Homo sapiens: one gene and its partners. The protein of the gene in region 2 purifies or fractionates together with the protein of the main gene of each other region. This does not show direct contact. Each region holds a gene or a part of one and is shown on either strand. Other genes may lie near its edges. The genes, in order: DNAJC7, PLS3, CKAP5, CAST, TALDO1, FLNC and WARS1.

Region 1 (3,500 bases), on a different chromosome or scaffold from region 2:
ATGCCAGGGGATGGGAAGAGAAGAGAAAAATCGCTTTGTTTTATTTTTTGGGATGGAGTCTCGCTATGTCGCTCGGGATGGAGTCTCGCTATGTCGCTCAGGCTGGAGTGCAGTAGCACCGTACTGGCTCACTGCAACCTCCACCTCCTGAGTTCAAGCGAATTTCCTGCTTCAGCCTCCGAAGTAGCTGAGATTACCGGCGCATGTCACCACACCCAGCAAATTTTTGTATTTTTATTGGAGATGGGGTTTCATCATGTTGGCCAGGCTGTTCTCAAACTCCTGATGACAAGTGATCTGCCTGTCTTGGCCTCCCAAAGTTCTGGAATTACCAGCAGGTGTGAGCCACCGCGCCCGGCCTTTTTTTTTTTTTTTTTTTTTTTTTTTTTTTTAAGCAAGCCCCCAACACCATAGAAAATTCTTGATTTGCTCGGAGGATAATTGGATGAAGGATTATTTTCTTCTTTGTTTATGTGCAAGAAATGAAAATAAGGAATTGCTTTGATCAGACAACTTCTTATCTTTGTGGTAGAAACAGAACTGCCCTTCTTGGAGTGGCTCTGCCTCTGAGATCACTACAGGGGAGACAGCATGCCCTGTTCAGCTGGCTGAATATTTGGCAACAATCTCCTGAAGCAGCTGGAATTGACAAGAAGTACTGGAGATTAGCTCGGGCCAAACCCTTACATCTGGCCTGACTACTGCTGCAGTCTGCCTCAACTTACCCCTAAAGCTGGGGAGATGCCACCCACCCACATCTTTGCTACACATGCCATCATGAGCTAGAGTTCACCCTTTCTCCTTAAAGCCCTATTTACTTTTCTACTTCAACTTTAAAACAAAATTAAAATGTGAGGATATCCCTGAATTTTAAAAAGCATGAAGTAAAAATGCAAATTAGTATAGTTTGTTTAATACATTACATATAGACCTAAAGAAAGTTCATCAGGGTTAATCATTTGTCACATCATTCTATACCCAGGGCTATCAGCTATCAATTTTCCTTTTTTTTTTTTTTTTAATTCAGGATCCAGCTCTGTCACCCAGGCTGGAGTGCAGTATCAAAGTATCATTTCTCTTACTTCAAATTATTACATTTTATTCTGTACATTGATTCTGAACTCCTAATATAATATTTATGTCCTGTATTTGCAGGCCATTGGTTTTTTTAAAGTCATAAATCAAAATGATGCCAGAAAATCAAAGATGCCCAAGATGTTGGGCTTCTCTTTTGCCAGCCACATTGGTAGCACTCTCCTGCCCTGGCCTCCAAGCTGGTGGGGATCTGTGATGTTTGTGAAAATGGGCTTATGCCAGGCGCAGTGGCTCACGCCTATAATCCCAGCACTTTGGGAGGCCGAGGCGGGCAGATCGGTTCAGGTCAGGAGATCGAGACCAGCCTGGCCAACATGGTGAAACCCCATCTCTACTAAAAATACAAAAAATTAGCCAGGTGTGGTGGCACATGCCTGTAATCCCAGCTACTCAGGAGGCTGAGGCAGGAGAATCACTTGAAACCTGGGAGGCGGAGGTTGCAGTGAGCAGAGATCGTGCCATTACACTCCAGCCTGGGCTACAGAGTGAGACTCTGTGTCAAAAAAAAAAAAGAAAGAAAATGGGCTTGTGTGGTAGCAGGTAAGAAATTGAATCTCTGTTGTACAGCAGCTAGCTGTACTGCATGATCACTTCCCATTCCCCAGCTGACAGTGGCTGTCTCTGGAACTCCTACCACAGTCTTCAATTGGTAGGCCAGCCCTGGTGCCAGTGATTTTATCTGGGCATGGAAAATGCCACTTGCTTCTGTGGAAGAGACACTTAAAAGATCTGGCAGTCGGCCGGGTGCGGTGGCTCACGCCTATAATCCCAACACTCTGGGAGGTCAAGGCAGGCGGATCACGAGGTCAGGAGATGGAGACCATCCTGGCTAACACGGTGAAACCCTGTCTCTACTAAAAAAAAAAATAAAAAATTAGCTGGGCGAGGTGGCGGGCGCCTGTAGTCCCAGCTACTCTGGAGGCTGAGGCAGGAGAATGGCGTGAACCCAGGAGGCGGAGCTTGCAGTGATCCGAGATCACACCACTGCACTGCAGTCTGGGCAACAGAGCGAGACTCCATCTCAAAAAAAAAAAAAAAAAAAAAAGATCTCGCAATCATCCTGTCAAGCTTGATTCCTCCGATCTTGGGCCAAGGGCCCCTCCTTTCTTTTGTGCTACTGAAATAGAAGCAAACCTGTGTTTAGAGTTCCCTTTTCTGTCTCATTTACCTGCATCTCTCATTGATTGGTCTTAGTGGAGGGATTTGCCAGCAGCTGCCACGTTGAACTTGATCCTTTTAGTGGCTCACTAATCCCACCTCTATTCTGGATTGTAGCTAGTCCTGCATGTTTATGGCACTATAGGTTTCAAAGCTCTTTCATACCCATTTATTCACTTGATAATTTTTCTCTTGTGTGTTTCAACCCAAAGTAATCAAGTAGATCCCTTCACATTGTCTTTTCTAAGGCAGTCCAGTACCTCTTAGGTGGCTGTGTGTCAGAAGGAACTTTTTCCTCTTGATTACTTTCTGCTCAAAGCTGAACATCACTTTGCTGGTTGGATGCAAGTGCCATGCGACCTCTCTTTTTATTTCCTTGAGGACTTGTTAGCTAATTTTCTCTCACTGCTAGATTAAGGGCTCCTGTTTCTGAAGCATCTTACCAGAAGTGTGTGTCTCTTGCTTGAGCCATGCCTCTTGCCCTAGAGTGATCCTGAGAACCACTGCTATTTATGTCTTAGTGCTGTATTGCCTTGTATTTCCTTCTCAGTTACATGGACACAGAACAGTATGAAGAAGCAGTACGAGACTATGAAAAAGTATACCAGACAGAGAAAACAAAAGGTAAGTTTAAAAGCATTTGTTTTTTAGGGAACTGTGTGGACTTCGTAGGCCATAAATCTGTACACAAGGTAGTTTGATTCAGGGATCAGGGATCTACCTAGAACTTATTTGATCACCAGCCAGAAAGAAGTGAACAAAGGCTGGGCGTGGTGGCTCACGCCTGTAATCCCCAGCACTTTGGGAGGCTGAGGCAGGCAGATCACCTGAGATCAGGAGTTGGAGACCAGACTGGCCAACATGGTGAAACCCCATCTCTACTGAAAATACAAAAAATTGTGGGTATGGTGGTATACGCCTGTAATCCCAGCCACTCAGGAGGCTGGGGCACGAGAATTCCTTGAACCCAGGAGGCGGAGGTTGCAGTGAGCTAAGATTGCGCGACTATACTCCAGCCTGGGTGACGGAGCGAGACTTCATCTCAAAAACAAAAACAAAAAAAAGAAAAAAAAAGTGAACAGATATCTTGGGTTGGGGCATGAGGCACCTATTTTCTGGTTCCAGATCCTCCCTGTCGTTTTCATTTCATTTTTTGTGTGGTGAGGCTAAAGTGAGGAACCTAAGTCTGGGTAGATTTTCTTTTTTCTTTTTCTTTTTTTTTTTTTTAAGATGGAGTCCTGCTCTGT
Region 2 (3,500 bases):
CACAATGTTTGCTATGGTAATGTTGGCCCTCTGCATGAGAAGCCAAAGGCAACATGTAATAAATGTCTTCCTCCATTGTTAGTTTTCCCCCACTGCTCATGATAAACAGTGAGTGAAAAAAAAATTCAATTCAATGCAAGAAATATGAGGGACTTGTATATGCCACATACTATGTTTTAAGTTGGCTTTAGTAGGAGGGCCCTGGAGCAGGGGCTGAGGTAGGATACACAGACATAAATAAGAGCTCATTGCTATCCTCGAGGAACTCACAACTAAAGGTAGGATAAAATGACAGGAGAGAAGCCAAATAAAAAAGGTGAAGAGGAAATCATGAGGCCCTTCCTATCTCTTCTAGGTGTGTTTACTAACAGGTACACTGAGGCTTGGGAAAGGCAGTTAAGAATAGAATAGTCATGTCCTATTCTTTAATACTCCATGTTTACCAATAGGCAGGATATAACAAATTAGCATTATAATATGATAAATTAGCATAATATTTTTACCTTTTCCCACAAAATAAAACATAGGTGCTAATGTACCTTATCTGGCTCTATTACTCTTCTAAAATCTACCTTCAGGGCCAAGAGACAACAAGGCTTGGTGATACAGTGTTAGGATTTTCTCTCTGTTAAGCTGGGATGAAATCTTCCAGCTATTATATCCCCCCAAAATGTTGTGATTCTTTCAACAGTTACCTTGATGTCAGCACTAAAGTTGTTAATTTTTTGCCAGCCCGAGTTTTCCAAATGAAAGTTTGCCCATCTAAGCAGAAGCTCTTCTGGAGACAATTTCATAAGTTCCTCCAAAGTCTCACCATCTCGGAGTAAAGCAGCCAAGGCTAGAAGAAAAAAAAAAAAATCCCACAGTTATTATATGACACAATAATGGTCATGCCAAGTTCATTCAGTCTTTTGACACTGTTAAGTAATAGAGGTGCAAAAACTACTATGACATAGTTCCTAGTTTCAAGATACTCATAATCTACTAAAAAAGATAAATATATAACAGATATAATAACATAATACTACAATTTATTCTTTTCTCTGTTATTCTTCACATTTCAAATACCAAATGAGGTTATGGCCTTTAAGCTTAATGCAAGCTTCACATTATGTCATATGTTTGTATAAGTTGTTCTTATTTAACACTTCTAAAGTCAAGGATTTGGGTCTGGGTGCAGTGGCTCACGCCTGTAATCCCAGCACTTTGGGAGGCCGAGGCGGGCGGATCACGAGGTCAGGAGATCAAGACCATCCTGGCTAACACGCTGAAACCCCATCTCTACTAAAAATTCAAAAAATTAGCCGGGCGTGGTGGCGGGCGCCTGTAGTCCCAGCTACTTGGGAGGCTGAGGCAGGAGAATGGCGTGAACCCGGGAGGTGGAGCTTGCAGTGAGCTAAGATCGCACCACTGCACTCCAGCCTGGGCAACAGAGCGAGACTCCGTCTCAAAAAAAAAAAAAAAAAAAGTCAGGGATTTGGGGGAAAGATGTTTACAATTTGGGAATCTTTTACTTAACCTTTTGATTAAAGTAGTCTAGAAACACGGTGGTATTTGTATTTAAGTAAAATTAATCAATTAACTCTTGAAGGCTCAATCCTATTTTAACAGAAATATAATTCATCCTTATATTTTCTTTTTCTTTTCTTTCTTTTGAGAGAGTCTCGCACTATTGACCAGGCTGGAGTGCAGTGGCGTGATCTCGGCTCACTGCAACCTCTGCCTCCATGATCTCGGCTCGCTGCAACCTCTGCCTCCCAGGTTCAAGCGATTCTCCTGCCTCAGCCTCCTGACTAGCTGGGACTACAGGCACATGCCACCACGCCCAGGTAACTTTTCTATTGTTTGTAGAGACGGGGTTCCGCCATGTTAGCCAGGGTGGTCTCCAACTCCTGGCCTCAAGTGATCCACCTGTCTCGGCCTCCCAAAGTGCTGGGATTACAGGCATGGTCCAACACACCCGGTTGCAATCTTACATTTTCTCTCTTTTTTTTTCTTTCTTTCTTTTTTTTTTTTTTTTTTTGAGACAGAGTCTCACTCTTTCGCCCAGGCTGGAGTGCAATGGCACAATCTCAGCTCACTGCAACCTCCGCCTTCCGGGTTCAAGCAATTCTCCTGCCTCAGCCTCCGGAGAAGCTGGGACTACAGGCACGTGCCACCTCGCCTGGCTAATTTTTTGTATTTTTAGTAGAAACGGGGTTTCACCATGTTAGCCAGGCTGATTGTGCCACTGCGCTCCAGCCTGGGTGACAGAGTGAGACCCTGTCTCCAAAAAAGAAGATGGTGCAAAATGGTGGAGCTGAGGGTGGCAACGGGGTAGAAGTTGTGTAGGCAGAACAGAAAAAAATAGATAATCAAGTTTGAGGACTTCAGGAAAGCTCCTTAATCTCTCTGTGCTTTTGTGTCATTATTGCAAAATGAATTGTAAAGTGCCAGACAAATGTGAATTACTAGTAAAGAAGAGAGTCATGTAATTAGGCTATTTTCCTGAATAACTCTATAGCATTACCTTATGTTCATTCTAGTTACCACCATTTAATCACCTCCATTAAGTGAGAGCACGAAAGTCTGCATGACTAGAAAAAAATAACCAATAAACAACTGCCAGAATGACTGTGTTCCATTACCTTCATTCCTGCTTAATTCAATGTCAGCGAACAAACCGATCTTAATGATCTGCCAAAGCAGTCCCAAAACCAGATGAGGTTTCCCAGCCCTCAAATCTTCTGCACCAATGTTCACAACATGACACCCAATGGCAGAAGCAGAGTTCAGTGCCAAGTTCAAGTTTTCCTGCAAGACAGCCAAATTACACACTTGCTTCTTGACCTTTCCATTTTTTAGCAGTCTACTTTCTCCCTTCACTGAAAATAACATTCAATGAGGAAATTAATACCCTGTATTAATTTCATCCATATATGTGTCACAAAAAACAAATTCCAGAGTTTTGTGTTAGAAAGCCTAGCTAAGACAAATTTCAGCCTTATTGCTATTGCCTTTTGCAGAATCTCATGAGAAGTTAACTTTGTATTTTTATTTGGTACCTTTTGAAGTATGCTGGCACTAAATGAAAAGGCTGAGTACCACAGTAAATATATCCATGTGAGTAAAGTGTTATAATTCCAAAAATGCCTAAATGGGTGAGAGACCAACAGTACTGCATATGCCCAAAAGAGTTTTAGAAGTTATCAATGTCCACATCCCAAGAGGTGCTCTTCTCTGAGGGAATTTTGCTAATAATCTAATATTCACTTGATAGAAAAAAAAATGCTCCATTTCTTAAGCACGCCAGTTAATTAAGAGCTTATATACTTCTGCTTATCTCTGTAGTGCTTGAACACATTATGAAATGAAAAGAACATGGGGCTTTGAAATTAGAATGGGATTTGAACCTCAGTTCCAACATTAATCTCAGGCAAGCTCAGAAACCTTTCTGAGTCCCAGTTCTGTCTGTATAATCTGGATAACAATCCCACACTCAACAGTTTTTACAAGGATTG
Region 3 (3,500 bases), on a different chromosome or scaffold from region 2:
ATTTTCCTTATCGACTAGGTTGGAGAACCAAAGGATGTCATTCGTAAAGATGTTCGTGCCATCCTGAACCGGATGTGCCTTGTCTACCCAGCTAGCAAGATGTTTCCCTTTATCATGGAAGGAACCAAATCCAAAAACTCTAAGCAGAGAGCAGGTGAAGCAAACAGTTTAAACTGAGATGTGAATCTCTGCAGCAGTAGCCTATAGAAGAAATAGTTTATAGATGAACAAATAAATTTCTCCAGTGCCTATGTAGTTGATTCCAACCTCCTGATTTAGACTGTGAGAGTGATGAGTTGCACACTGGTGGAGCCATGGTATCAGGTGATACAGGCACCACTCAGTATCACCCTGGTGACAAAATCAAGTGCACAGGGGCCATCTGACTCACAGGCATCTCTTCCTTTCAGGAGCACTTGCTGAAATACCATTTTTTCACTGATAAAAGGCAGTAAACAAAAAATCCTAGGCAGAGCCAGAGTAAGGTTTTAGTCCTTCATATATGCCAAGGGAAATTTCTCTAGTAAGGATAAGTCTCTGTCCCAAATATGTGTTGTCTCATTAATCTAGCCTTTCTCCCCCATCAGAGTGCCTGGAAGAGCTGGGATGTCTGGTTGAGTCCTATGGCATGAATGTTTGCCAACCAACCCCAGGAAAAGCCTTAAAGGAAATAGCTGTTCACATAGGAGACCGTGACAATGCTGTACGCAATGCTGCACTCAACACCATTGTAACGGTGTACAATGTACATGGGGATCAGGTGTTCAAACTGATTGGAAATGTGAGTGACTTCTCTGAACACTGTCAGCATGTCGTGAAAAGAATTGCAAGATCTCCTAGGTGTTAGGTTTCCTGTCCTCTCAACTGTAGCTAAGTTTTTACTACTTTTTAGTCAACTCAACCTATCAATGTGTCCTAGAATCCAGATAGACCCTTGAGGTGTCTCTGATTAGGCTGTTTTAATGGAAATCAAGTTTTCTTTTCTGAGCATTCTATTCATAGCAAATTTGCTTTAGAAATGAGTGCTATTTTTGAATCAAGAAATCTGAGCTAGTCCCGGGTTTAAATTCTGCCTGGCAGTCTGCTCTGTAATTTTTACTGCATCGAGTTTTTGGTTAAAAAGTGCTTATTTGTGTATAGTGTGGATGCTAGTATCTGTCAGATCACATCTTGCGCTACAGCCGTGAGCCAGTTTTTCACTCACATTAGGTTCTGCCTCTGACCTCTTATTTCGTTTGAGTGAGTCTGGACCTCCGTCTTCAGTTACCTCATAGTGTCACCATGTATTTACACAGGGCTTAAATATGTTTACTTATATTTTCTAATTAAATTCTCACTACTACCCAGTGAAGAATATAAAGCAGTTGGGAATTTTACAGATGACCAAAAATGAAGTTTCTTGCCCATAGTCACACAGCTAGATAGTGGTGACAAAACAAAAAATGAGGAAGCTTCATTTAATTTTTGACCTTTTTATTTGTAGTTACTAATTGGCTTTCTTTTTTTTATCGTTTCTTTTTTTTTTTTTTTTTGAGACAGGGTCTTGCTCTGTCACCTAGGTTGGAGTGCAGTGGTGTGATCATGGTTCACCGCAGCCTCGACCTCCCAGGCTCAAGTGATCCTCTGACTTCAGCCTCCTGAGTAGCAAGGACTACAGGCGCGTGCCACCACACCCAGCTTATTTTTATACTTTATGTATAGATGGGGTTTCACCATGTTGCCCAAGCTGGTGTCAAACTCCTGGGCTCAAGTGATCCTCCTGCTTTGGCCTCCCAAAGTGCTGGGATTACATGCATGAGCCACTGTGCCCAGCCCCTCTCCTTCTTTCATATCTCCTCTTCCTATAGCAGCTAGGCAGGTATTAATAGTAGTTGATTTTGAAATGTGGTGCTTTGAAAGTAAACATGTCCTAACATAGAAGGTTCTATTTGTTTTGATATGAAAATAGATATTATTGTGTTATCCAGTTAGGTTTCTAAATTTGGCCTCTTTACAGCTTTCTGAAAAGGATATGAGCATGCTCGAGGAGAGGATTAAGCGGTCAGCAAAGAGACCCTCTGCTGCACCAATAAAACAGGTGGAAGAGAAACCTCAGCGTGCACAGAACATAAGCTCCAATGCCAACATGTTACGCAAGGGACCAGCTGAGGACATGTCTTCCAAACTCAAGTATGTAGATAGAGATACTTGTCTGAGAGCATCTCCATGGCCTTTGCCTTGTGTGCTCACAGCCTGTCCTGTAACATAATCTTGAGTTCTTGTAGCCATTATCATGCATGACAGAGTGTCTGGGTAAATGTATTGTAACCAAATGTTTGATTCTTCAGTCTTCATTGTCTTTGTCTTTGTCTCAAAACCACTTCTAAATGGTCTTGTGCCTTCTTTCACTGCTTTTCCGTGGACAGAATTATGTATCGCACTTATAGGATGTAAGTACTGCCTGCTAATTTCTCATTAGCAGGGCTCTTATATCTTTCTAACTTCTGACTTGGATTCATCCCCTCTGGAGGGTGACTAGCTTAGAGTTTATAATCAGGGTAGAGGGTGTCCATAAGTACCCCATGAATCAAGTCTTCCACAAAAGTTCAATGTCATGTGGCTAAAATACTGATTCACTTTCTTCTTTGTGTTATACTTGGTTGTGCTTAGTTTCCTATTCTTGAGATAAGGCTAATTAAAATACATGCAACCCAAAATTGGCTTAGGGACTCAAAATACTGCCTCCTAAGCAAGACAGCTCTATTTTGGGTTGTGTCATGAGTATAATTTTAACGAACTTGAATTTGGAAACTTTGAATCCCTATTTCTTGGATGTAAAGCTGGCCCTGACCTGTCAAGAGTGAATATTCTAAAAAGGGGTGACTGGTGGTCTCACAAAATATAAAATGTGCTGAACACGGCATGGAATGGTACTTATGATTAGCAAAATTAAAGCACTGGTTAATTTGGTGGAAAAGAACCAGCCAGTCTAAATTTTTCTTATATATTTGCTCATAAGTAGTGAACTTTGAGTCAATACAAATATATTTTATTGTTTTCTGCCCCTTCAGGAATAGAAATACAAGGTTTGTTGGCTTTAGTGAACTAGAACAAATACTTATAACTTGGCAGGTAATGTAAGTACAAATTAAAGTTATCTGCCCTCTTAGGATATTCATGAACCAATGTTGTTACCTATTAAAGGCACTTGCTTAGACTCAGGGACTTAAATCATTCAGGGGGGCTGAAACCAGAAGTTGAACATCTGTCCTGAAGCTTTGGGGCAACTGACAGTGCTACTCTTGCCCTTTGGTTAAGAAGTCTCTTTTAGTTCAGGAGCCTCCTTTTGCTTCCCTTAGCCAAGCCCGAAGCATGAGTGGGCATCCTGAGGCAGCCCAGATGGTCCGCCGAGAATTCCAGCTGGATCTAGATGAGATTGAGAATGACAATGGTACAGTCCGATGTGAAATGCCAGAACTTGTTCAGCACAAACTGGATGACATTTTTGAGCCAGTCCTTAT
Region 4 (3,500 bases), on a different chromosome or scaffold from region 2:
CCTGCAATTTCTAATCTCTGGGTTGCCTCACCCTCCCCTGACGGCTTCCCAGCCTTTTTTTTTTTTACCTGGGTAACCAATTCCCTATGTTACACTCCCTTTGTTTTAAATACTCAGAGTCATTTCTGTCTGTTAGTTGACTGCAATAAACTCTGATAGGGCAGAAACAGCCTAGATTTGTAAGGCTATATGACCGTGACCTTGGGCAGATAATTTAATTTTTCAGTTTCTTTTTGTAAAATAGGGCTAATGGTATCTATCCCAGGGGCTGGCAAATTTATGAAAAGAGTTGACATTAGTGAGGCACCTGGTTCATTGCCTTGTTCATTTTAAGAACACAATTAAAATTATTTCACTCCCTTCTTTTTCCCTGGCAATCTGACTGTGGTGAATTAGAAGCCAGTGAGTTAAGGTTTGAGGGTTTCATTTTCTAAGGCTGTAAACATTAGAACAGAAGAATTTAGTATTTTACTTTCCCTAAAGTACAAAGGAACCTTATCAGGTTCATCTGATTAAGTTTTTGTTTAGTACTTTGTCTATCTCATGACTGTGTATTATATATTATTCTCACATCTTCGTATAACACTCAAGGAGATAAACTACATGGGGGTTAAAGAATTCATTTTCCCAACAAACTACAGCAATTTGGTTACAAGGATGACTTATATTTGCAATTCCCATGCTTTAAAACATGTTGAAAGGGTGTGTGTGTGTGTGTGTGTGTGCACGCGTGTCTGTGCTGGTAGCTGTGACGGTTAACAGATAAAACAAGATTAGGACAATGTTGACAATTATTGACACCAATGATTGGTATATGAAGAGGTCATTATACTTATTTATTTATTTATTCATTTATTTATTGAGACGGAGTCTTGCTCTGTCGCCCGGGCTGGAGTGCAGTGGTGCAATCTCGGCTTACTGCAAGCTCCGCCTCGCGGGTTCACGCCATTCTCCTGCCTCAGCCTCCTGAGTAGCTGGAATTACAGGCGCCTGCCACCACGCCCAGCTAATTTTTTTGTATTTTTAGTAGAGATGGGGTTTCACCATCTTGGCCAGGCTGGTCTTGAACTCCTGACCTTGTGATCCATCCGCCTCAGCCTCCCAAAGTGCTGGGATTACAGGCGTGAGCCAACCGCACCCAGCCTCATTATACTCTTCTCTTATTCTGTGTACTAATGCTTAATATATATTAAGGATTAACTGCATAGCTGTAATTCTGAAATCCCTCTGTTTTCACTGAACCCCAAGTGTTCGTTTTTTCTAACATTTTAAGATTTCAGTGGACATGACAAGATGACACTGTAAAGGTACAGGCCCTTTGTGTCCAATTTTCAGAGGTGGCATCTATTGCCTGTCATAGATTAGCTCCTGGGATTCACCTGAAGTAAGGCTGGATGAGTTTTTCTTAAGTCAAAGGGGGTATCATGAGAATTTAAATAGTTGCTTTGTTGCCACAGCAGTTGTCATGAGAATGAACTTGTAGTTTTATCTATGAGAAATGCAAGAGGAGGCCAGGCACAGACCACTGCACGATTTTTTTGTGTCCACCGCACTCTGCACAAAACTGACACACAGCAGGTGGACAATAAACAACTGTGAACATCTTTGAGCTTTACCAAATTTATTCTTATGTTCTATGAGTTTCCTACAACCAAAACAAATTTCATACATTTTTAGGAAACTATAACTTTAGACCTTTTTCTTCCTGAGTTAACTGACTTTTCCATCTGAGGAGATAACTTACATGAACAGTGTTTATTGGATGGAACTGTTCTTGCATTTTTCTTAACTGGAAGACATCTGATATACTTCCCCCTGCCCCCCGCCTTTATGGTGGCTGTAAAGCTTTCTGGGTATGTTTTCATGAAAGGAAAATGAGACAACTCAAAGAACAGAACTTTAGTATCTGTTAATATGATTTTCATCTTAAAAATACCTCAAGGGGGAAAAATGATGTACTACTTAGAGTAGTTTTGTATCTGCTGAGACAATCTAGTCAGAACTAATTACCCACCTATCCACATGGAATCTCACATGACCCCCCACTGTTCCCACCCCCAGAAGGCTATAGCATTCTTTAAAAGGCACCTGTAGAATATAATTAACCTTCTGGGAAGTGCCAAAACTGATTTAAAGAAAGATATTATCAGATGCTACTCTTGGTTTAAAAGGCTTATACACAATGGGGCGCGAACTAATTCAAAGACTGTCAGCTGAAAGAGAAAGGCTGTATTTGACCTCTATGTTTCCATTACCCTAAAGTCTATGCCCTTTTTGCAGGCCCTGTTATTTGCCTTCCTTAGTTCTAAAATTCACTGTGAGCAAGTGATCTGTCCTGCCATGGAAGGCTTGCAACATTCTTCCCAGGCTGGCAGCAATGATGGGGCCTCCCAAATGACTGGGCTCCTTGATCATGCTGTCACTAGGTCTATGGATCTAATTAGGCTAAGAAACACCTTTAATTAACATAGTCTAATAGAATCAACTGATGATTCAGGAATGTGATGACTGGTGTGGGCCAAATTAACCTTCGTTCATGCTTGATCATTACATAGCTCATAGATGTTCTTCAAATTTAGCTCTGCAGAGTTGTGTGGTGTGTGTGTGTGTGTGTGTGTTTACTACAACCACATTTTTCAGAAGATAAAGTCAATAGGATTGATGGCATTCAATGTGGAAATATACATTGCAACGTTTCACTGACTAGCTTTATAGGTGGCATGCTGTTAAACGAACACATCTGAGACATGTCTTTTAATTATTTCATTTTATTCTGCCTAAATTTTGAAAGTTAGATCATTTATAACCTTTTCAGTACTTAAAGGATTCCACAAAGATATTTTAATTATAGGATTTACCTGAAGTATTCTGAGATGTCTGTGTATATACCGATATCTGTGTTTATATCTGTAGATATATATGCATATAAATCTGTCTATATATGTATTATACATGCATGTGTACATACAGACAGACATCTGTATTTATATCTGTAGATACATACACACATAAATCTAGATGTCTACATATGTATTATACATGCATGTGTGTATTATATATAAATATGCACATATATGTATATTGGATTGTATATGTTTGTATGTGTGTATGTATATGTGTGTGTGTGTGTGTATGTGTGTGTGTGTGTGTTATAAACTGGCTCCATGGACCTTTGGGGGATTTATGGGTGGTCTTTTGGAAATCTCTGAACTCCCTGAAGCTATATTGGAAACTGCATTTTGTGTATGTTTGTATGTATTTTGTTGTGGGAAAGCAGTCCATAAATCCCATTTGATTCTCAAAATTGTCTGTGACCACCCACCTATCACCAAAGGAAAAAAAGAAAGTTTAGGAGTCCATGGTCTAGCGCTATACTGTCCATTACTATAGCCCCTAGCTGCTTGTGGCTACTGAACACTCTTGAAATGTGGCAAGTGTGAATTGAGATGTGCTGTTAATGTAAATATACATTGGATTTTGAAGAATTAGTATAAAAAAGA
Region 5 (3,500 bases), on a different chromosome or scaffold from region 2:
AATATTAGCCAGGTGTGGTGGCGTGCACCTGTAGTCCCAGCTACTTGGGAGGCTGAGGTGGGAGGCTGGCTTGAGCCTAGGATGTAGAGGCTGCAGTGAGCTGAGATTGTGACACTGCACTCCAGCCTAGGTGACAGAGCCAAACTCTATCTCAAAAAAAAAAAAAAAAAAAAATTTGGGGCCATCTGGACATGGGTGCAGGGCTCATCTGTTGATCACCCAGCCAAGCAAAGGCACCAATGTCACCCAATAACAGGAGCACCAAGGCCTCACTGATGCCACAGGGGTGCAACACCACGAGATGAGGAAAAGGGAGCTAAGAAGAGAGAGGAGAGGGTCAGACTCAGTGTCCAGAGTGGCTGTCACAACATGGTCAGGGGAGCCACTCACCAGCCACCTGGACCTAAGCAAAGCCAGTACCAGAGAGGGACCTGCTCCTGTGTGGTGCCCACGTTGCCTGCTCGGCACCATCTTCAAGCTTTGAATTATTACCCTGAAGAGAATCTAAAATGACATCTAAAATATGCAAAGCCACAGGCATGAAGAGGGCTCTACAGTTGCTTGGTTGGGTAAGGGAGTGGGGAGCTACTGCAAACAGGTACCAGAGAACATTCTGGGAGTTATAAAAGCTATTAAAAAATTAAAAAGCCAGGCACGGTGGCTCACGTCTGTAATCCGAGCACTGTGGGAGGCCAAGGCAGGTGGATCACTTGAGGTAAGAAGTTCGAGACCGGCCTGGCCAACATGGTGAAACCCTGTCTCCACCAAAAATACAAAAATTATAGCCAGGTGTGATGGCGCATGCCTGTAATCCCAGCTGCTCGGCAGGCTGAGGCAGGAGAATCGCTTGAATCTGGGAGGCAGAGGTTGCGGTGAGCCGAGATTGTGCCAGTGCACTCCAGCCTGGACAACAAAAGCAAAACTCTGTCTCAAAAAAAAAAAAAAAAAAAATACAAAAATGAGCCAGGAGTGGTGGCACACACCTGTAAGCCCAGCTAATTGGGAAGCTGAGGCAGGAGAATTGCTTGCACCAGGGAGGCGGAAGTTGTAGTGAGCCAAGATTGCTCCACTATACTCCAGCCTGGGTGACACAGCGAGACTCCGTCTGAAAAGTAAAAAATAAAATGACAGCCAGAAGGTAAGTGTTACCAGAGCTGGGGAGACTGACTACAGGAGGGGAGGAGGGGCCTGTGGGGGTCTGCAAGTGCTCTGCATCTTGACTGGGGTGGTATTTACAGGGTACACACATTGGCAAAACTCTCTGAACTGCTCATTTACCACAGGTGCAGGTTACTTCATGCAGATTACACTTCAATAAACAAAAATAGGCAAAAAGATAGGGTTTTTTTCCCCCCTTGAGTTCATGGTGTTTGAGAACTAAAATTCAGTTAGGGAGGGAAGCAAGGCCAACTAGACTAGCACGAGGGCCTAGCTGGGACCCTCCCGAGTCCAGGCACTCACCCGCCCAGCTTCCGGCCATAGGCAATCGCCTCCTCCACCAGCTCCTGGTAAGCGGGCATCTGTGCTGCGGCCAGGATCAGGGACGGGTTGGTGGTAGCATCCTGGGGCTTGTACTCGTCGATGGCTAGGGAAATAGTTTTCAAAAGCCAAAGTAAGTGGAGTACTTGCTTCCAACTGGAAACATGTGAAGGAACCCTGTAATTCCCCAGGACGTTAGGGGAGTCCAGAGCATTTCCGAAAGCGGGGTCCAGCCACACTTCTCACACCTTCTTCTGGGTCACTGAAGGTTCATCAAGAGGCGGCTGTTTGCATAATGATGGAACAACAAACACTAAGTGCCCAGCGATCAAATATGCCCCTGCAAGAGGTGACCTGTAACAGCATGGGAGTGAGCGGTGCGACAGCTGGGAGAACGCTGGTCAAAGGAAAATGTGCATCCCACTGCCGTACCACCACAAGGAGGCGCGCGGTCTAGTCATGAGCCACATGTGAACGCTGATCTTATGGACTGGGTCATTATCACCATACCCAGCTGCAACAGAGTCAAGAAGCCAAGGGGAGCTGGGCGCGGCGGCCCACGCCTGTAATCCCAGCACTTTGGGAGGCTGAAGCGGGTGGATCACGAGGTCAGGAGATCAAGACCATCCTGGCTAACACGGTGAAACCCCGTCTCTACTAAAAATACAAAAAACTAGCTGGGTGTGGTGGTCGGCACCTGTAGTCCCAGCTACTCGGGAGGCTGAGGCAGGAGAATGGCTTGAATCCAGTAGGCGGAGCTTGCAGTGAGCCGAGATCGCGCCACTGCACTCCAGCATGGGTGACAGAGTGAGACTCCATCTCAAAAAAAAAAAAAAAAAAAAAAAAAAAGGCCAAGGGGAAAAGCACTCAGGACACACAGCATTGCTCCAAAAATTATTACCTGCAAGCCTAGTTGCTGAAGCGGCCTCTAACCTGAAACCAGTTTATCTAATAGTTGCTGAACCGCACTGCTGCAACTTTAAGACTAATTTTATCCACTGCTATCACTCACCAATCATTCTTTTTAGGTTTCATAGAAAGACTAAATTAGCCAGGTGTGGTAGTGCATGCCTGTAGCGTCAGCTACTCAAGAGGCTGAGGCAGGAGGATCGCTTGAGCCCAGGAGGTTGAGACTGCAGTGAGCCATGATCATGCCACTACACTCCCACCTGGGCCAGAGAGCAAGACCCTATCTCTTAAAAAAATAAATTCAGGCCGGGTGCAGTGGCTCATGCCTGTAATCCCAGCATTTTGGGAGGCTGAGGCTGGTGGATCGCCTGAGGTCAGGAGTTTGAAACCAGCCTGGCCAAAATGGTGAAACCCAGTCTCTACTAAAAATACAAAAATGAGCTGGGTGTGGTGACACATGCCCGTAATCCCAGCTACTCAGGAGGCTGAGGCAAGAGAATCGCTTGAACCCAGGAGGTGGAGGTTGCAATGAGCTGAGATTGCACCACTGCACTCCAGCCTGGGTGACAGAGTGAGACTCTGTTTCATAAATAAATAAGCAAACAAATAAATAAATATCGCATTCAGTAGCTTCTGCAGGTAACTTGACAAAACCTGACCTAAGAATCCTTTTAGTCGGAGTGGACAACTTTGACAATGTCCCAAGTTTTTGTTCAAATTGTACTGGTGGTCCCTTTTATAAAGCTGACATTCTCTGCTTTAATCAACCCAGTCATAAAATGCTACTCAGTGGCTGGGCACAGTGGCTCACACCTGTAATCCCAGCACTTTGGGAGGCCAACGGGGGTGGATCACTTGAGGTCAGGAGTTCGAGACCAGCCTGGCTAACACGGCGAAACCCTGTCCCTACTAAAAATATAAAAATTAGCCAGGCGTGGTGGTGCATGCCTATAATCCCAGCTACTCGGGAGGCTGTGGCAGGAAAATCACTTGGACCCGGGAGGTGGAGGTTGCAGTGAGCCGAGATTGTGCCACTGCACTACAGCCTGGGCAATGGAGCAAGACTCTGTTGCAAAAAAAAATAAAAAAGTTTTTTTCTTCAGAGTAACCAA
Region 6 (3,500 bases), on a different chromosome or scaffold from region 2:
AGGCCCTGAACTTTGATTTTGCTGAGGTCCAGCGGGGGTGCCACATTCACCACAAAGGGGCTCTTGGGGACAGGGTCCCCGCCATAAGTCACTGTCACTGCCATGTTGCCCTGTTGGGTACAATGGTAGGTCAGAACTGGATATAAGGCAAGGTCCTACAACATCCTGGTGGTGAATATGGGCTCTGAAGCTCAGATCCACCATGAGAGTGAGGGCAGGAGGCAGGAAAGGCGTGGAGGATCCAGAACTGGTCCCATGGGACTGGAGGAGGGAGACCCAGGGCTCTGGCGGGCCGGCCGGGCGGTAGCATGGGAGGGGCAGAGCGCACCTGCTGGACAGCGGTGTACTTGACAGTGTAGGAGTAGTCATGGTTGTCTATGATCTCAAAGTCCCGCACAACCTCGCCCTTGGCTGTCCCTGCAAACTGCACATCCAGCTTGGCCTTGCCGGCTCCCTTGGTCAGCACCGTGAAGTGGGTGGGCTTCCCGACTTCCACACCTGAGGACCCACCCAGAGATGTGGTGAGGGCCTGGCAGCCACCTAACCCCAACCTCGAGCCAGTCCCAGCCCCTGCCCAGACACTCACCTGTGCGATTCAGCCCAGGGCCCTCGGCCTTGACTTTGCTGGCATCGTGGGATGGGTCCACCTTGATGTGGAAGGGGCTGGCGGGGATCTCCTGGATGTGGAGGAGGCTCAGTCAGGGCTCTCGAGGGGAACACACCCCTGCTCTCAGCTAGATGCTGGCTCAGGACACACCCAGGGGACCCAGCATGGACAGGGGCAGCCTCCAAAAGGGCCCCCTTTGCTTCCTCTGAGGCACCCTGCCTCACACAGGTAGGGCTCCACCATGTCTGCGGAATCATCCCTCCCTGTTCCCAGTGACAGCATCTCCAGCTGCCTTCTGGAGCTGGCAGGTGCATGTCGCTGTGAGTACCCAGGAGCTTAGGTACCTGGTTGGCAAACAGCACCATGATGGTGTAGCGGCCCGCCCCTGGTGGCGTGTACTTGACGGTGAAGGTGTCGTTGTCATTCTTGATGATGTCGAAGTCAATGTCAGCCTCTGCAGGGCCCACCACGCCTGGGGCGCACTTGATGCCGATGCTCACGTCGCCTGCAGAGAAGCGGGCACTGCTGTGAGTTGGGCTCAGCCCCCGACTCGACTCACCCCCGCCCCCTCCCAGACCCACCCCTTCCGGCTGGGCGCACCTTGCCCCGCCTCGCTGCAGTCCACCGTGAAGTAGGTGGGCTCATTGGCCTTGAGGCCTGTCTTCTCCACTCCGGGGCCGTACACCTTTACCCGCTCGGGGTGGCTGCCCTCGCCCACGTTCACCTGCGGGAGGGGTCGCAGCTCAGCGTGGTGCCCTCCCTCAAGGCTCATCCTCCTGCCCAGCGCACCCGGCCCAGCCTCAGTGGCACCAGCCCAAGCCTCAGTCCCAGCCTGAGCCCAGGGACAACAGGGACTCCAGCGAGGGTTCCGCCCTCCCTCAGGGACCCCTGGTGGTGGGCACGGGGCAGGCCGGGAGGACGCACCCGGAAGGGGCTCTTGGGCACGTTTACGCCTCCCCAGGAGATGATGATGGTGTGCTTAATGGGCTTGGTGGGCACGTAGGAGCAGCGGAAGGTGCCGTCGCCGTTGGGGATCACCTTGATGTCGATGGGACAGCCGTCGGCGTCCTGTGGGCATCACCCAAGCAAAGTTCATAGCTGTGGCCTCTGCAGAGCGCCCTCTGCTGGCCGCAGGTGAACCCAGCGCCTCCTTTCCCACCCCCAACACTGGCACTCCCGCCCCCACACCAGCCACTGAGGCCACCAGAGCCCAGGGCCACGTGCTCTGGCGGCCAGAGCCCACCCTGGGAGCCTGACTCAAGGCCATCTGTATGGCTTGCTCTCCCAGCCTAGGTTTCCTCAACTCTGAAATGTGTTGGACAGGAAGAGTGTGGGCTAAATTTATGTTCCTAAAACTGAATCATGAGCCTTTCAAAGAAGAATCACCCTCTTAGATCCTCAAGAATATGTTCATTAACCTCTAGGGGTCAATGGACACCAGTCTGAGAAACTGACTTGGGAAACCAGTGTCTTATTCAATGAAACAATCTTTCAATTACAAATTAGCACAAAAATGACTCTTTGGTAAAATACGTTTTTAGGTTATCATCGTTAAGAAAACACAAAATTTAAAATTTTCCATGGTACTGATGGGCCCATGAGTATCAGTCCTGCCTGATCTTCTGTGATGCTGTCATTTCCTGCTGGGAGGCCTCTGCCTCTGGCCTGGCCCTGCCTTCCAGGGTCCCTGCCATGGGTAGTAAGGGCAGCAGAGACTGGACAATGACCTACCTGGGCATAGAGCTTCAGGTCTCCCTTGCCAGCTGCACGAGCATCAATGGTGAACTCAGCGGGCTTGTCCACGATGCAGCCGGTAGGCTCCAGGCCAGGCCCAAAGGCCTTCACCTGTGCGGAGGGAAGAAGGCTGAGTTGGGGAGGGGAGGAGAACCAGCTTGCCCCACCCCCGGGGCAGGTGTGTGTGAGCTGGGACCACACCTTATCTGGGAAGCAGTCAGGTGGGGCGGGCAGGATGTGGGCAATGAAGGGTGAGTCTCGGATGTCCTCATCGTCACAGATGACGTGCACAGCGTACTCCCCAGGCTCCGTGGGCCAGTACCGCACATCGCAGGAGCCATCCCCCTTGTCGTCACATTCGATCTTGGCTTGTGAGGGCCCCTCGATGGAGAAGCCTGGGGCAAGGTGGGGGAGGGTCGGGGATCCAGCATCAGGCAAGACCCTTCCGTCCCCCAGCTCCCCTCTAGCTGCCCTCATGTCCTATCTCCCTGCTCACCCCAGCGCTCCCCAGCATGCGCACTGCACCCATTACCCACAGTGTCCCCTGCTGCCCTCCCCCGCAGCACTCCCTCCTCCTGCCCCCCAGCCACTTACCCAGTGTCCCCACCTCGGTGCCAATGGCTTCCACCACAAAATCGGCTGACTTGCCCACCTGGCCAGTCTCCAAACCAGGACCCCAGGCCCGGACCTTTTGCACTCCTGCCTCTGGGCTCACCTGTACCTCAAAGGGGCTGGGCAGAGAGGGAGCTGGTGTCCATGCCAGGAAGTGCCCCCCAAAGTCCCTCGCAGCCCAAACTCCATCTCCCCTCAAACTCCCTCGCAGCCCAGTGCCCCTCGTCCCTCCCTGTGATGGCCTAGACAGGACAGCATGGGGGGCGCAAGGTACTCACCTGCGAGGGATGGCGTAGCCGCCCCACGTGATGGTCACCACATACTTCCCAGGCACCACCGGGTAGTACTCGCACTCGAACACACCATCCCCAGCCTCCCGCACCTTCACTGGCTCCTCTGTGCCCTCTGAGGAGATGGGGGCAGGGTGGGGAAGAAGGCAGATCAATATCCTTGAAGTCCCAGCTCCTCAATCCCCTCAAGGAGCCATTGGGACCCCGACCCAGCCCGAGGGCAGTGCTGTAGTGAGCAGTGCTGCAACTCAGGGCAG
Region 7 (3,500 bases), on a different chromosome or scaffold from region 2:
GGCGGGCGGATCACCTGAGATCAGGAGTTCAAGATTAGCCTGGCCAACATGGCAAGACCCCCTCTCTACTAAAAATACAAAAATTAGCCGGGTGTGGTGGCGGGCGCCTGCAGTCCCAGCTACTTACGAGGCCAGGGCAGGAGAATCGCTCGAACTCAGGAGGCAGAGGTTGTAGTGAGCCAAGACTGTGCCAGTGCACTCCAGCCTGGGCGACAGAGTGAGACTCAGCCTCAAAAAAAAAAAAAAAAAAAAAGTGATGGAAGTCATGGAGAAGCCGGAGTGGAGTCACCCCAGAAGGAAATGAAATGCTTATGTTCTAGTTAAAGATGCGTATTGATGATGATATTTCTGAAATCTACTACAACAAAAGCAGAGATCTTCTTTTTTTTTTTTTTTTTTAAAGCATAATCCCACAAGGACAAAGGAAACAAGAAGAGGATGACAGCAACAAGGTTTCAGAAGCCAGAAAGCTGATGAATGATCAGTGCCTAACAGCATGAGAGAAAAACAAATGCTAAGACATCATGGAAATACTGGAAGGTGACCGAGTGTACACTGTTACGGAATCACCCAAAGGTTCGGGCCTTAGTGACCTTGCGCACTTACAGGAGTGGGGGCAGGAAAGCGGGTTATGAAAACAGGAGCGCTGGTTGAAGTCTCTTCAAGAAGCAGTTATTGAGAATCCCTCTCCCCTCGGCCAAGGGAGTGTCACAGTTTCCCCTCCATTCCAAGGTTTCATGTCAAGAGAGGACAGAGTTACAGGTGCCTAGACTGGGGGCAGTCTGCACAGTTGGGGCACTGGCAGCACACAGAGAATAGGGAGCTTCGGGGAAGGATCCCACAGCCCAGCCCTTCTCTCCCACTCAGCCGTAGAACTCTGGCAGCGGGACTCACCCCCTCTGAACAGTGGACTGGGGGAGCTTTCTCTGGGGAATCTCACTTAACTTTAAAGAAAAGATCTAAAGACCTTGACACGAAAGATTCCCCAACAAAAGGGGAGCAGCCTGGTCACTCTCCAGGAAGTGGAACCTATGTTGATAAGCTCTTCCCCAATGAAGAGTGCATCCAGCAGCTTTCAGTGCACCCCCCAAAACACCAGCAAATAGCCAAGAAACACCAAACAGTTGAGAATTGCCTCTAATATGAAAGGCAGGTAGAAAACAAATTAAGATGGAAGAAACTGAGGTTATAAAGGATGTAGAGGACATATGGAAAACTACCATTAAGATCTCAGAGAGAGAGAGTTGAGTGTCCTGAGAGGTCAGATTGCTGTCAGACATGGCCCATGGACATGGACATGAGCATGGACATCGTAAAATGGAACTTCTAGATTACAGACAACGGAAGACAGAAGGGACACCATTAGAAACTATCCAGAAGAAGCTGGCTGAAAAAGGGCTAAGGGATCCGTGGGGCCACAATGAAGCTTGAAGATACATGGGTGGCTTTGCAAAGAGTGTTTCCTTTTTTGATGTATTGTTTAAAGGATTCAAATGGGGATTTGCTGCATTTGTGGTAGCTGTAGGAGCTGAATATTACCTGGAGTCCCTGAATAAAGATAAGAAGCATCACTGAAGATAATACCTGGAAGTATCATAGTGGTTTCTTAACTCTCCAAAATAAGATTTCTTCACTGTAGCCTACTCGTCTGGTTTGTCCCTTACAGAATATTAGTAAGATTTAATACAGTAAAATAAGATTAAAAAAAAAAATCTCAGAGAGAAAAGGGTGGTACTGTACCTATGAGTCAGGGCAGAGTGCTGTGAGGAAACTTCAGGGAGCATACATGCTCCTGGAAGTTAAAAATGATAGCAGAAATGGAAAACAATAGGAGGGTTAGAAAATCAGAGAAACAGTCTCTGAATTAAAAAAAAAAGTCTGTGAAGAGAGAAAACAGAAGAGATCAAAGAAATCATGATTTCTGAGAATTAACGGCCATGAGTTTCTAGTCTAAAAGGCAGGCTGAGTGTGGTGGCTCACGCCTGTAATCCCAGCACTTTCGGAGGCCGAGGTGGGCAGATCATGAGGTCAGGAGTTTGAGATCAGCCTGGCTAATATAGTGAAACCCCGTCTCTACTAAAAATACAAAAATTAGCCTGGTATGGTGGCGGATGCCTGTAATCCCAGCTACTTGGGAGGCTAAGACAGGAGAACTGCTTGAACCCAGGAGGCGGAGGTTGCGGTGAGTCGAGATTGTGCCACCACACTCCAGCCTGGGTGAAAGAGTGAGATTCCATCTCGGGGGGCGGGGGTGGGGTGGCAAAAAAAAAAAAAAAAAAAAAAAGAAAGGCATACTGAACCTGCATCCCATGAAATTTCAGAACACGGGAACAAAGAAGATCCTGCTAACTTCCAAAAAGAAAAAACAAAGGAATGGCAACTGACTTCTCTGCAGCAAGCCCAGAAGCTAGGTGCCAATAGAGCAGTGGCTTCAGCATTTCCAGGGGAAATCACTTCCATGCTAGAACCCTACACCCAGCCTGGCTATCAATCATGTTTTAGGTAAAATAAATACGCTTTCAGATGGGCAAGATCCCCCTAGAAATATTTCCTTTGCAATATTTTTTTCAGAAACAATTGGAAGATTTGCTCTGCCCAAAGAGTAAAGCAAAGAGGAATAAAGATGCAGGAGCAGGAAACGGGGCACCCAATCGACAGGGGTGAAAGAACCCCTTGGGTCGACAGTGAAGAAAGACGCCAAGATGGGCAGTGTAGGAAGCAAGAGCCCCCACTTCAGAGGGAAGCAGGCAGAAGGTTTTGGGAGAGATCGCCTCAAGAAGATGAACTTGATAGACTAGTTGATGTGTGTTGAAAGGAGATTCACTGGACAGGGAAAGGGCTTGGAGATACATTATCATTAGTATCATTGACATAAAAAAGTCAAGCAAACAGATATTAAGACAAATATTAACTCCAGAGAAAACAAAAGCTGGGCGAGAAAGTTAGAGTACTCATTCTATCCGTGATGGTTCAGCTGTCCACGTCTATTTCCATGGTCATAATAATGTCAGTGTACAGATACTGACCTAACTACAACTGCAATACAGATGGGGAGACTGCCTGGACGGGAAGTGGTTGTGAAGGTACGAATGCTTCATTTCCACCTGAAAGACCCCAACTTGAAAATCAACAAGGAACAATATGATAAGCAGAATATTTACAGATATGGGGAGTACATAACCAAAAGATCGGCTAAAAGAATTGAGCAGGAAATAGGGAGAGGTGGGCTGGAGGGCCACTGTATTTCACAAAGGCTTTGAGAACCCCTGACTCTTTAGACCACAGGCATCCCAATGTTGATAAAGGAAAAATACATTTAAAACTATAACCAAGGCTGGCGTGGTGGCTCATGCTGGTAATCCCAGCACTTTGGGAGGCCAAGGTGGACAGATCACCTGAGGTCAGGGGTTTGAGACCAGCCTGACCAACGTGGTGAAACCCCCATCTCTACTAAAAATACAAAATTAGCTGGGTGTGGTGGTGCATGCCTGTAATCCCAG

The links.
Region 1: the proteins of PLS3 (region 2) and DNAJC7 fractionate together in Homo sapiens (co-fractionation; one large-scale study listed by BioGRID). This does not show direct contact.
Region 3: the proteins of PLS3 (region 2) and CKAP5 fractionate together in Homo sapiens (co-fractionation; one large-scale study listed by BioGRID). This does not show direct contact.
Region 4: the proteins of PLS3 (region 2) and CAST fractionate together in Homo sapiens (co-fractionation; one large-scale study listed by BioGRID). This does not show direct contact.
Region 5: the proteins of PLS3 (region 2) and TALDO1 fractionate together in Homo sapiens (co-fractionation; one large-scale study listed by BioGRID). This does not show direct contact.
Region 6: the proteins of PLS3 (region 2) and FLNC fractionate together in Homo sapiens (co-fractionation; one large-scale study listed by BioGRID). This does not show direct contact.
Region 7: the proteins of PLS3 (region 2) and WARS1 fractionate together in Homo sapiens (co-fractionation; one large-scale study listed by BioGRID). This does not show direct contact.

What each region holds. Positions count from the first base shown.
Region 1 is NC_000017.11:41,982,940-41,986,439, reverse strand, and holds part of DNAJC7 (dnaJ homolog subfamily C member 7), read left to right. Parts: intron 1-532; exon of another isoform or gene 533-2,803; coding exon 2,804-2,877; intron 2,878-3,500. UniProt on the Homo sapiens protein: Acts as a co-chaperone regulating the molecular chaperones HSP70 and HSP90 in folding of steroid receptors, such as the glucocorticoid receptor and the progesterone receptor.
Region 2 is NC_000023.11:115,634,174-115,637,673, reverse strand, and holds part of PLS3 (plastin-3), read right to left. Parts: intron 2,794-3,500; coding exon 2,628-2,793; intron 839-2,627; coding exon 696-838; intron 1-695. UniProt on the Homo sapiens protein: Actin-bundling protein.
Region 3 is NC_000011.10:46,759,281-46,762,780, reverse strand, and holds part of CKAP5 (cytoskeleton-associated protein 5), read left to right. Parts: intron 1-18; coding exon 19-154; intron 155-281; exon of another isoform or gene 282-392; intron 393-587; coding exon 588-781; intron 782-1,996; coding exon 1,997-2,169; intron 2,170-3,338; coding exon 3,339-3,500. UniProt on the Homo sapiens protein: Binds to the plus end of microtubules and regulates microtubule dynamics and microtubule organization. Acts as a processive microtubule polymerase. Promotes cytoplasmic microtubule nucleation and elongation. Plays a major role in organizing spindle poles.
Region 4 is NC_000005.10:96,665,376-96,668,875, reverse strand, and holds part of CAST (calpastatin), read right to left. Parts: intron 1-3,500.
Region 5 is NC_000011.10:753,964-757,463, reverse strand, and holds part of TALDO1 (transaldolase), read right to left. Parts: intron 1,586-3,500; coding exon 1,462-1,585; intron 1-1,461. UniProt on the Homo sapiens protein: Catalyzes the rate-limiting step of the non-oxidative phase in the pentose phosphate pathway. Catalyzes the reversible conversion of sedheptulose-7-phosphate and D-glyceraldehyde 3-phosphate into erythrose-4-phosphate and beta-D-fructose 6-phosphate.
Region 6 is NC_000007.14:128,840,406-128,843,905, reverse strand, and holds part of FLNC (filamin-C), read right to left. Parts: intron 3,359-3,500; coding exon 3,232-3,358; intron 3,073-3,231; coding exon 2,936-3,072; intron 2,737-2,935; coding exon 2,543-2,736; intron 2,453-2,542; coding exon 2,339-2,452; intron 1,676-2,338; coding exon 1,532-1,675; intron 1,332-1,531; coding exon 1,208-1,331; intron 1,113-1,207; coding exon 952-1,112; intron 678-951; coding exon 587-677; intron 499-586; coding exon 329-498; intron 111-328; coding exon 1-110.
Region 7 is NC_000014.9:100,365,348-100,368,847, forward strand, and holds part of WARS1 (tryptophan--tRNA ligase, cytoplasmic), read right to left. Parts: intron 1,697-3,500; exon of another isoform or gene 1,241-1,696; intron 1-1,240. UniProt on the Homo sapiens protein: Catalyzes the attachment of tryptophan to tRNA(Trp) in a two-step reaction: tryptophan is first activated by ATP to form Trp-AMP and then transferred to the acceptor end of the tRNA(Trp).